Linked DNA regions of Homo sapiens. The protein of the gene in region 2 interacts with the protein of the main gene of each other region in a pairwise test. Each region holds a gene or a part of one and is shown on either strand. Other genes may lie near its edges.

The links. The genes of interacting proteins can lie anywhere in the genome.
Region 1: the proteins of COL5A1 (region 2) and TNC interact in a two-hybrid assay, tested with the Homo sapiens proteins (one study listed by IntAct).

What each region holds. Positions count from the first base shown.
Region 1 is NC_000009.12:115,019,044-115,024,158, forward strand, and holds the end of TNC (tenascin isoform 1 precursor), read right to left. Parts: intron 5,094-5,115; coding exon 4,930-5,093; intron 2,225-4,929; coding exon 2,114-2,224; 3' UTR 532-2,113; downstream 1-531. UniProt on the Homo sapiens protein: Extracellular matrix protein implicated in guidance of migrating neurons as well as axons during development, synaptic plasticity as well as neuronal regeneration. Promotes neurite outgrowth from cortical neurons grown on a monolayer of astrocytes.
Region 2 is NC_000009.12:134,644,794-134,651,825, reverse strand, and holds part of COL5A1 (collagen alpha-1(V) chain isoform 1 preproprotein), read right to left. Parts: intron 3,773-7,032; exon of another isoform or gene 3,562-3,772; intron 3,436-3,561; exon of another isoform or gene 1,620-3,435; intron 1-1,619. UniProt on the Homo sapiens protein: Type V collagen is a member of group I collagen (fibrillar forming collagen). It is a minor connective tissue component of nearly ubiquitous distribution. Type V collagen binds to DNA, heparan sulfate, thrombospondin, heparin, and insulin.

The DNA.
Region 1 (5,115 bases), about 20 Mb from region 2:
ATGGCTGGAACCATAAATTCCTCTGATCCTTGCTCCAGAGCCATCACATTCCATTTGAATGAGGCCTATCAGCCCAAACTTGACTTATTTTATTAAATAAGTCAATTTTCTGAAAATCCCTAAGAGAATGAACTGGGAATTACTCTCCCCCCATATACCCTTGTTTAAAAAGAGAAATGTTATGCGTTGAGCAGTTCTGACTCACTATATTTGCTGAGGACTAACAGACCTGCCATCCAGGCAATGGGTTCCCCATCACTAGATGTGTTCAGTCTGAGGCTGGAGGAATATGGGCTTGCTCCCTTTTTGGGGACTGCAGTGTAGAGGAGAAGGCGATATTCCTAATAGACATTCTTCCTAGTTTTCAGAGTTCAGGATTGTAGAAGCCTGAGGAAGCATCCAGTTGAACTGCCCCCATATCCCATTCTGCAACCTTCACTCTCTTGCCACAGCACACATTTCCCCAAAGAAGGAGAGATTTTCATTAAGGGACCGGGAAAGAGCAGGAACATTGGAGCCAGAAGACCTGGGTTTAAATCCAAATTCTATTATTTATTGAGTAGTAGCCACAATCAAGTCATTGGGTTTCTATGAACCCCAGTCCATCTCATATAAAGTGATAATGATGATAGCTAACATGTACTAGCACTTAATATACACCGGGTACCATTCTAAGGGCCTCAAATGGATAACATAATTTATTCTTCACAAAAATGTTCTGAAATGAGAAGTATGAGTGTCCCTACTTTACAGAAGAGGAAACTGAGGCATAGAGAGGTTAGGGAACTTGGGAATGGTGGAGCCAAGAATTGAACTCAGGCAGTCTGCCTCTGGGGATCTTAGCCCATGTGTGGTAACAATACTTACCTCAACTATATCATAGAGTTTCTAGGAGTTGCATTAGAAAATGAGTATAAAAGCATCTTTTAAACCATAATCTATTAGTCTTGGAAATACTGAGCAAGATGCTGAATCTCAAGTTGTAAGCTTTTTTTTTCTTTTCTTTTTTTATTTAGAGACAGGGTCTCCCTCTGTTGCCCAGGCTGGAGTGCAGTAGTGTGATCATAGCTCACTGTAACCTCTAACTCCTGGGCTCCAGTGATTTTCCTACCTCAGCCTCCTGAGTAGCTGGGACGACAGGTGCGCACTACCACGCTTGCCTAATTAAATTTTTTTTTTTTTTTTTTTCTGTAGAGACAAGTTCTCACTATGTTGCTCAGGCTGGTCTCAAACTCCTGGGGTTAAGCTATCCTCCCACCTTGGCCTCCCAAAGTGTTGGGATTACAGGCCTGGCCTGTAAGCTTTTCCCAAGTGTGTTCAACTTTATTTAAAAAAAGTGCTTCCCTCTCTCCCAGTCTTTAGTCTCCTTTCCACCCCTCCCACTTGACCACTATCCCTACTTACCTTTCCTATCCCAACATTCCCCGCTTTGTTCAAATGATTGGCTTTGGTGAAATTCAGACTCAACAATTCAAAGCAAAATAACAAACTCAAAAGTACTTGTGCTTTTATTTAAAAAAAAAATACAATCAGGTACTGTCCAGAAATGTTTTGGAAAGAAAGATCTCTTGAAAAATCCTTAGTTTTCATCATCATCATCATCATTATTATATTAATAATATTAATCATATCCTTAAAATGGAAACAGTATTGCTTTTCTGGTTTCTGTTGTATGAAATGTAAAAAAAGGGATGGCTTCCAATGACACATTTAATCTTTGCTAACAAAAATAATGACAATTAATTATACAGCTTCATGTAAAATACGGCTGGTTCTAAAACAAACTACCCCTGTACATCCTACCCCTCTCCCATTCCCAGAGCCACCTAAGAGAAGTAAAAAACTATTGCGATGTTGTCACTGGGAGATTTTTGCTGAATCAAACAACAAAACAGAAACATGTTGGAGACTGATGTCTTTGGTGCAAAGAAAGAAATCACAGAGGAGGTGAGGCCCATGCTGTTGCCGTTGGCCCCAGGGATCCATGGTCAGCTTTGACTCTCACCAAATGCCCAGGTGTGGACCGATGGTTGGGCTGGTTGTATTGATGCTTTGGTAAAATCCTTTCCTCGCTCTGGGCCTTATTCCTCTCTCACCCAGTGGTCCCTGGAATTTATGCCCGTTTGCGCCTGCCTTCAAGATTTCTGAAGTTGCTTGGTCTCAGCTTCATCTCAGCAAACTGGATTGAGTGTTCGTGGCCCTTCCAGTGGAACCAGTTAACGCCCTGTTAAAAAAAAAAAAGAGAGAGAGAGAGAGAGAGAGAAGGCCTCCAGGTTGGTTACTGTTAGGCGAGGTGTTCACTGATCATTGCTATTTAGTCATTCAAACTAAATGAGTTCTGTTTCAATTTGACCATTTGGTATATCACAGCTGCCTCTTGCCTATCTCTCTGTTGGTCTGGGTTGTGGAAACTTTCAAAGGAACTGGCTGAATCTGACCCAGTTTTTCACCTGAGTCAAGAGTCGCCTGAGTTTGCATGGAGCTTTGGTCTTTCCTCTTGAGGCAAAATGGTGGCTGATGAAATCTGCCGTCCTTAGGAATAGGTTCTGAAGGAGTTCAGGTCATTATTAGAAGTTCTAGAATTGAATAGCTACATACATGGTGTGTGTGTGTGTGTCTGTAATTCACGAGATTCCTATGGAGTATTTTGATAGGGGTTTGGTATGGAATAGCAGAACGAACAGCTCAACAAAACACAGTTTTACAATTTGACATATAGGGTTAAATATCAGTGTTCTTACTTGAGAGATAAATAGTCTTAAGTTCTCAATATCTTCTGAGCCTCGGTTTTACTATTTTTTTTTCTTTCTTAAGATCTGATAATGTTAGCCTTGAAAGATGAGATGAAGATTAAATGAGTTTGTAAAGGAGCTATCACAGAGCTGGGCACGTCGTAGGTGCTTGGTAAATATTACTTCCCTAGTCTCAAGTAGGGGGAAATATCCTTGAAATTTTGGCCAAAGCTTTCTACAAGAAAAAACTGTATCTGTGTCTTGGCTTCCAGGTTTCAACTTTGACTCTTCAGCGAAGTCTGCAGATGGTAGAGTCAATCCATGAAACCCCACATGGCCCCTTGCCCCACTGTGGGGAAGTTAATGGCTAGTGAGATGGGAAAAAAATAGAGACACTTTATTTGCTTCTAATTGTTTGGCATTCACTGACATGGGCAGTTTCTGAGTCTTACAGGGATGTGAGGTTTAAGAATGGCTCATTCATTTCATGGGCAAATCCGCTTGTAATTACTCAGTTACAGTGAGTATGGTAGTCCAACAGCTTGGTGCACATGCTGCCTGCCTTTGCCCTGGTTCTTTCCTCTGATAGTTCAGGGTTGGAAGCCACGCCTTCTTGTACTGTGGTGGGCACTAAAGCCAGAGAGGGAGAGTGACTTTGCAGAGGCCACACAGCAGGAGGAGCAGAGCTGGAGCTGGGGCTCCCCTCCTGTGGCTCCTTTCCATGTCATCTCTTTCTTCTTCCATAATTGAATGGAAGGATGAAAGAGAGGCTTGCTTTCTAACATGTAGCTTGTTGGTTTTTTTTTTCTTTTCCCAGAAGAACTTTGTATTATACGAGTATTTTTGAGACAAGGCAATAAAGATGATAAAATAATGCTCAGAATGGAAATATTGATGAAATAACACAATAAGATGGAAACAACACAGGACTGCTGTCAAGAAATGTCCTGTGACTCTTGCCTCCTCTGTAAAACAGGCATGAAAAACCACATCCTAATTCCTGCACAGGGTAAAAATGATAAACCCTTGAGATACAGAAGGTAACAGTGCTTTGAAAAGTGCCAGAAATTATGTAAGGTAAGGTCTACACTTAAGGTCGCAGGTGTCATTTGCTAGCAGTTAATTAGGGCATAAACATGTGTATCAAAGTGACTAATATTGAAAAGCAACAGGTCCCAACACCTGCTGCATGTCAGGAATCGCTTGTGGAGTCTATCAACTGCCTCCCCCCTGACCCCACAACAACAAAAATGCAAATATGCAAAAAAAAAAAAAAAATGAGATGCTGTGTCTTGCCTGAGATCATTGAATCAGAATCCCTGGGGTTATCATAAAGTGGAATTTGGCCCTTTGCATTTTTATAAAGTCCTTGGGATTCCAGTGAGCAGACCTCATAAGCATCCTTGTGGTCCAGGGATCAGCGTGGTGTGGCCCCAAGGGAAGATCCAGCCCTCCTCCCAGGGATGGTGACTAACTTCTGTGGAGGGACCTGGGCAGGGGTTTGGTTATGATTAAGTGGCTAGTCCCACACAGCTTTACACTTTTCAGGAATGTGCCAGTGTAGGCAAGGCTCAGAGTAAGGGAGATTACTGAATTTGATCCGTTCGCCTATTTCTAAAAGGGATCGAAAAAAATCTGTTTCTGTGATTGTAGAAGTGCTAGAGGTGTGTGTGGTGCAGGGAAAATGCCAGGGGCTGGAAGTGGGGAGAGCTGGCTCTGCTGCCAACTTCACTCTGTGACCTCAGGAAAGTCAGCTTTTTCTGGGCCTTGGTTTCTTCACAAAAGGAGGAGATTTAAAGTCTGTGGACTTCATTTTAAGGTGTTCTTGGGATTCCAAAGATGCCCCAGGCCAGGGGTTCTGTGTCATCAACCCTGCTTCACCTAAATGGCCTCCACTTTTATCTGCTTTACTTTTGGGGTTCAGACAGAGATTTTGTCTGAGTAAAGCGTTCTGTTTTTGGAATCCATTTGACCAGTGTTTGTCCTTGGGACTGTCAAGGGTTAACCTGTGCTGTTTCTATTTTACCTGGCCTGCAGTGTCCTTGAGATTGCTCACTGCCTTGGGAAAAACATGTTGTCATACAAGTAAGGTTCCTGCCTCCTAGTCTCTGCTAGGATAGGGAGTTAAATTGTACTTCCATTAGCCCCCTCCAGCTTCCCAAGCTTGGCCTGCTCTGGGCCCTCACGGTCCACTCACCTGACTGTGGTTATTGTCCCCATATCTCCCCATCAGGTTGACACGGTGACAGTTCCTGTACCAGAAAGCCCCTTTGTAGGACAGAGCACAGTTGGTGATGGCTGAATCTGTGTCCTTGTCAAAGGTGGAGAAGGATCTGCCATTGTGGTAGGCCATGGAGTCACCTGGGAGAGACAGAAAATATGG
Region 2 (7,032 bases):
CTGGGAATGTCCCTGATGGACACAGTGGTGGGAAGGCAGAGGACCCGAGAAAAGTCCCCCCAGGGGCCCCTCTGTCCCGCGCCTGTCATCGCACCTGCACCCACCCACTGTGCAGAGCCCATGGGCAACGGGCCGGCTCTCCCCACACCCAGGCTTGCCTGTCACCCCCACAACAGGCCCCAGTGACTGACCTAATTGTGTGCTGAGGATGCAGATGGCTGGGCCTCTGTCCTCCAGAAGAAAGACGAAACTACAGCTGGAAAAGCTGAGACCACCGTGCTCTCTGGTGTACATTTTTATTTTTATTTTCATTTTTTTTTAGACAGGGTCTCACTCTGTCACCCAGGCTACAGTGCAGTGGCACAAACACAGCTCACTGCAGCCTCAGCCTCCCTGGCTCAAGTGATCCTCCCACCTCAGCCTCTCAAGTAGCTGGGACCACAAGCACGAACCACCACACCTGGCTAATTGTTTCTGAAATTTCTGTAGAGGTGGTGCCCAGTAATGGTATTGTTGGGTCAAATGGTGTTTCTGGTTCTAGATCCTGGAGGAATCGCCACACTGTTTTTATGTCATTTTATGGCATTTATTTAAAAAATAAAGAGGCCACCAGATGGTGCCCAGGCTTGATGTGCATTTTTATGCATCTGAAAGGAAGAAGAAGAAACCGAGGCAGAGGCTTCAGGTACGCACTGTTGCCTGGGGCCATGGCTCCCCTTCTGAAGCACTGGGACCCAGCTGCCATGGAGGCTGGCGCCAGCAAACAAACAGGAGGGAGCGGAGCCACGCCGCCCTCACCTGGCCTTGAGAATGGACAGAGGCTGCTTGCGTCCATGCATGTGACTGTACGGACCTGCACCAACATGCAGGCCGTGTGACCACTGGGACGTGGAGGGTGGTTTTCATCCCCTTGTGCCAGCTGGACTCAAGGAGCTAGACTGGCACATCTGCAGAATGGGCCGATCCCACCTGGCACGAAGGGCGGGTTTGAGGATCACAGGTGCTGACGGGAGCACCCTCAGAGCAGGGTCCAGTGTAAATATGAAAATATGAACAAGAGCCAGAGGAAGAACATGCACGGGAACGTGCCCTCTGCATCCACCAATGGGAGCCTGCCTTCAGGCGCATGCATCCCAAAGGGCTGGCCCTGGAGAAGCAGGCTGGTCTCTGACTGGCCACCGCCCCATGGGGCTGGCAGGTGCCTCCCTAGACTGGCCTTGGCCACACCCTACTCCCACTTCTACTGCACCTCACTGGGTAAAACCACCTGTTCAGATGGCTGACTCCCCCGCCGCAGCGGAAGACCCAGTAGGGCACAGACGGCTCGCCTATCGCTCACCTGTGCCCCCCGCACAGGTCCGTCTCATGTTAGGGGTCCATAAATGCTGCCAAGCAAACCTGCTGACACACCCAATGTCTTTGCATATGGACCCCATCTGTTCCCTCTGTACCCACACACGGGAAAGAGTGCTGGTCCCCCAGGCCACCCGCCAGCAGAATGGAAGACGGTCGCTTCCAATGGAAGACGGTTACGATGCTCATGTGTTCTCACTGGGAGATCACTGTTTCCCAATGCAAGGGTCAGAGTTTTTCAACTTAAGTCACTCCTGCTACATACACACATTTAAAAAAATTTTTTTTATTATACTTTAAGTTCTGGGATACATGTACAGAACGCACAGGTTTGTTACACAGGTATACACATGCCATGGTGGTTTGCTGCACCCATTAACCTGTCATCTACATTAGGTATTTCTCCTAATGCTCTCCCTCCCCTAGCCCCCCACCCCCCAACAGGCCCTGGTGCATGATGTTCCCCTCCCTGTGTCCGTGTGTTCTCATTGTTCAACTCCCACTTATGAGTGAGAACATGTGGTGTTTGTGGTTTTCTGTTCTTGTGTTAGTTTGCTGAGAATGATGATTTCCAGCTTCATCCATGTCCCTGCAAAGGACATGAACTATCCTTTTTTTATGGCTGCATAGTATTCCATGATGTATATGTGCCATATTTTCTTTATCCAATCTATCATTGATGGGCATTTGGGTTGGTTGCAAGTCTTTGCTATTGTGAACAGTGCCGCAATAAACATACGTGTGCATTTCTCTTTATAGTAGGATGATTTATAATCCTTTGGGTATATACCCAGTAATGGGATCACCAGGTCAAATGGTATTTCTGGTTCTAGATCCTTGAGGAATCACCACACTGTTTTTATGTCATTTTGTGGCATTTATTTACAGAAAAAAAAGAGGCCACCAGAAACCCTATTGCCGAGGTCCTGGCAAGGAAGAAAAGGACAGAAGAGCTAATTTCCCTACAAGAACACGGGTCTAGGAAACAGAAAATAAAGGAAGCTTCCATTTCATGGGCAGAGACATCTCGGCAAATAGGCTGAGCCCATGTCCCCAGAGCTCTGAGTAATTAAATTTTGAGAAAAGTGGGTCAGGCTGTGGTTCCATTTCTTAGGTCTGAGTCATCAAAGGATGGTGACATTTACTGCTAATATGAGGTTATTACCTAGTTTGAGATTCCTCCAGAAAAACTCCTCTGCTGATAGGAAGCTGAGGGTGTGACGGCTCGGACTATCTGACATGGATAACTCAAAGTGACCCGCACCCCTCCACTGAGCATCCAGCCACCAATTCATTCATTCCACGGTCTTCTCTCCAGTGGCCTGGGGCTGGGCTGGCACAAAAACAACATCTGAGATGGCAAAGCCCCCCCCACACCCCGCCCGCACCAACTTCACCCACCCCTGCCTGGAACACCTCCTTTCAGTGATCAGCCACCACTCACCGCCATCACATCACAGAGACAGAACAGAGGCCTGCAGCTGGGAGGTGCACAGGTCCATCCACCTCCTGGACCTCCGTTCCTTGTAAAGAGCAAGTGGCCAGAGGAGGCAGGGGAGGGCCACTCTGCGGGCTGAACTTGGCCTGGCCCGCGACTGCCCAAGGATGCACCTTCCTGGCTCAGGCTCAGAGCCTCAGAGGCAGCGAGCAGCGAGCGATCCGCTGAACTGACCACTGGTGCTTACTGCCTTACCTTTTCTCCTGCGTACCCAGTGAGGGAAGCAGCAGTGTGACACCACACAGGATGGCAAGGGAGCACGCACAGGCCAGCGAGTAGAGGGCCCCAAACCACCTCACAGCCTCCTGCTGCACTGGGGCCCCTGGTGGCAAGGGCAGTAATGGGGTCTTACTCTGTGCTTTATATGAGTAATACATTAGACATCACTAAAACCCTACTGTAGTTACAGTCACCACCCCCTTCTTACAGATGGGGAAAGTGAGGCACAGGGTGGGAAAATGCACTGCTGGTAGACACTGGAGCCAGGATAGGAATCCAGGAGTCTTGCCGGCTGCCTGTCCTTTGCCAGCAGGCCACCCTGGTCCCTATGCCATGTCCTGGTGGCTGCAGTCCTGCAGTCCTGCCTATGAGCAGAGCTGTATTAGTCAGGGTTCCCTTAGAGGGACAGAACTAATAGGAATAGAAATAATAGAAATATATATATATATATTATATATATATATATAGGAGTTTATTAAGTACTGACTTACACAATCACAAGGTCCCACCACAATAGGCTGTCTGCAAGCTGAGCAGCAAGGAGAGCAAGTCCGAGTCCCAAACCTGAAGAACTTGGAGTCCGATGTTCGAGGGCAGGAAGCGTCCAGCACAGGAGAAAGATGTAGGCTGGGAGGCTGGGCCAGTCTCGTCTCTTCATGTTTTTCTGCCTGCTCTACACCTGCTAGCGGCTGATTAGATTGTGCCCTCCCGATTAACGGTGGGTCTGCCTTCCCCAGCCCACTGATTCAAATGTTAATCTCCTTTGGCAACACTCTCATAGACACACGCAGGATTAATACTTGTATCCTTCAATCCAATCAAATTGACACTCAGTAGTAACCACCACAAGGGCCGCTGTGGGCTCCGCCTGCAGGATCGAGGCACATCCACCAGCCAGGCCAGAAACTTTAAAACCGACACTTGGCAAAGCACTGAGAGAGAGCAGACGAGTCAATTATATGGGAGAATGTAAATAGAGGAGAAGCGGGAGCCATAATGTAACATCGCCCTCCCGGGAGTTTAAAAAGACATGAAATTGTCGGATCCAGCTGGACCCGGCTTGCCCTGCGGCAGAACCCACAGCCTCACGCTCAACCGGCAGGTTCCACGTGCCATCTCCTCCTCTCCCGTCCAGCTGGGGCCGGGTCACGGTAAGGAGAGAAACGTCGCCCTGCCACGAGCTCCTCAAACACACCAGGCCCTGCACGTGGAGTCAGCCAGGGACACCCATGTGAACGCAGGTACATGTGCAAGGATGCGCATGCGTGCACACTCAAACACACATGTATACCCACAAACACATGTGTGCAGGCAGATCGCGGGGAGATATACACATTGTCCACACGTGCACACGGCCTGACACACACACACACACACGCACACATGACACACATACACACAAACGCACACATGAGTGCAAACCCTGGAATTGGCTTCTAAAGCTTTTCACATGCATCACACCCCACGGCCTGGACAATGACCCCATGAGGTTCCGTGGGAAAGCAAAGAACCGAGGCCAAGGAAGGCAAAGGGGCAGCAGAGACCGGCTAAGCGGGCAACAGCAGAGCCCCAGGGGTCTCAGCAGGGCCAGGCCCCACACAGGCACACCTCCCTCGCCTGTGCTTCTGGGAGCTAAAGAGGGCTGTGGGAACACTGCTCTTTCCTCCTGCAAAACCACCACTGAAGATGGGGGCGATGGTAACGTCCCCACACAGCCAGTGCCGAGTACAGGTCAGGCAGCCTGCAAAGCTTCTCACAGGTGTGGCCTCAATCGATCTTCACAACCATGCCTCAAAGCAAGAAATGTGGTTCTCCCCATGTTCACGAGGGGAAGCTGAGGTGCAGTGACTTGTCCTCGCCCAGCCCATCCGACAGCCCCTCAGAGGCAGGGAAACTCAGCTCCAGCCTCACACCGACCTTGCTGGCCTGGAGTTCAGTAATCTGATTGCCAAGGAATGTCCCCTCCCACATCCGACCACCTGTCACCCAGCACAGGTACCCAAAATCACCCCCAGAGGCCCCCACATCCTAATCCACAGCTGTGGAGCTGTCTGCAGAGCTGTGCAGACTGGGCTCACTGTGCCAGGCCAGCAGGGCTCGTCAAAGGGAAACAGGAGGAACGGGGGCAGAGAAAGGGTTAAGGAAGCTGCCAGGATCTGCCACTTCCCTTAGGGGCACTTGTATTCTCCTGGCAAACAGATACTGGGAGCACCTGCCAAGCCCGTGAATGAGGGGCTTTCCAGCCAAGGGAGCCGCCCAGGAGAGCTCTGGGACACGGTGTGGAATGTCCTGTCAGAAGGAGGGAAGAGAGCAAGATTAAAGCCAGAGGTGGAGGAGGACCCCACGAAGGAGGGTCATTTCTGCAATAAAAGGAAGGAGAAGAGAAGGAGGGAAGGCCAGTTTCACATCACCTCCTCCAGGAAGCTCCCCAGCTCTCCCCAGTGCAATTAACCCTCCCAGACTGTCGGATGCAAGACCCAGCACATCCCATGGAGGGCCCTGAGTAAAATTCACAATGGTCTGCCTGTCAGACTGTGAGCTCCTGGAAGGAAACGAGGGGTCCCATCCCATTTGCCTCGGTCTCCCCAAGATAGGCCCGACCCAGGTGAAAAGGCAAAAGCCTTCAGGGTCCAGGCAGGTTATGCTGATGTGCAGAGAGGCCTGGGAAGTGGTGGAGACTGTGGCTGCTGCATCCCTCTTGAAGGCACTGGAGTAAAAAGAGAAGGGATGGAGGGACAAAGGGAAGGAAGGAAGGGGATGGGAGAGAGGGAGGGAGGAAGAGAGGGAGGAAAGAAGGAAGGAGGGAAGGATGGAGGGGGAAGGAGAAAGAAAGGAACTTAAAAGCTGTGTTGGCCAAATGGAATGGCTCTGCTCCCAGGACCCTGTTTGGACTGGGCCCCCAGGCCAGGACTATAGCTCAGGGCCCTGGCCTTCTCCCCGGGGAGAGCTGATAAACCGATGGGAAGTGAGAAGAGGGAACTGTGACAAGTCAAAGAGTGACCATGCCAGGCGAAGGGCCGTTGCTGGCTTAGGGCCCCACAGCAGGAATGGAAGACATCTGCCTGGCATCCCTGCCCCCTGACTCCTAGGCTCTGTCCCTTCTCAGGCCCGGGTGAGGGTGCAGTGAGATGGTGCAGCTGATGCTCACCACAGGCCAGGCAAGTGCCAGCCCCTCCATTCCCATGTGTGATTGTCTCCCAAGGCCATTCCCAGAGCCACGTCACGTGACCGAGCAGGGACAGGTCCTGCACTGTTCCAGATGCAGCTTGGCTCAGGCTCCTATGTGGGTGCCCTCGGGAAGTGTTGGGGACTCATCCTCGCCCTCCAGCGGGGCAGCTCACTGCTCTGCACAGCCCCTACTCCACCTATCAAGGTCTATCTCCCAGGAGGTGGGATGGGGCGGTCCAGGGAGGAGGCAGGGCAGGCAGACAGGCCAGGCAGCGAGAAGGCAGGGCGGGACGGGCAGCACCAGCTGTGTTCGGCTGAGGCGTGGCGGTGGGGAGTCCAGAAATATCTGCAGGGCGGGGTGAAGAGCAGGCTCTGGCCAGCCCCGCAGGAGCAGCCCAGGAGTAACATCACTGGAGAAACCACTGTGAGCCTGGCACTGGGAGCACGCCCCTGCCTGGGGCTGCCGCACTGCTGGGTGGGCACAGCCCTGGGTAGCAACCAAAACTCCAACCCCTCCGGCAAATCTGGACCACAGCAGGGAGAGGGCTTGGGGAATTCTTGGGGCTTCTGAGCTCCTCCCACTCACTGCTCTTTTATGGGGAGAGGGAGGGAGGGGGCAGAGGATGGAAAAGGATGTCTTTCCAGCCAACTTGATTGAGTCAGAGGAAATTTAACCATTTGATACCTGTCAAGTCTCACAAAACTTGGCCGACTCTCCCCACAAATTATTGCAAAAAGCAATCACGTGACTGGAGTCAACCAATGGCGTGTAGAGGAGATGACCTCAATTTCCA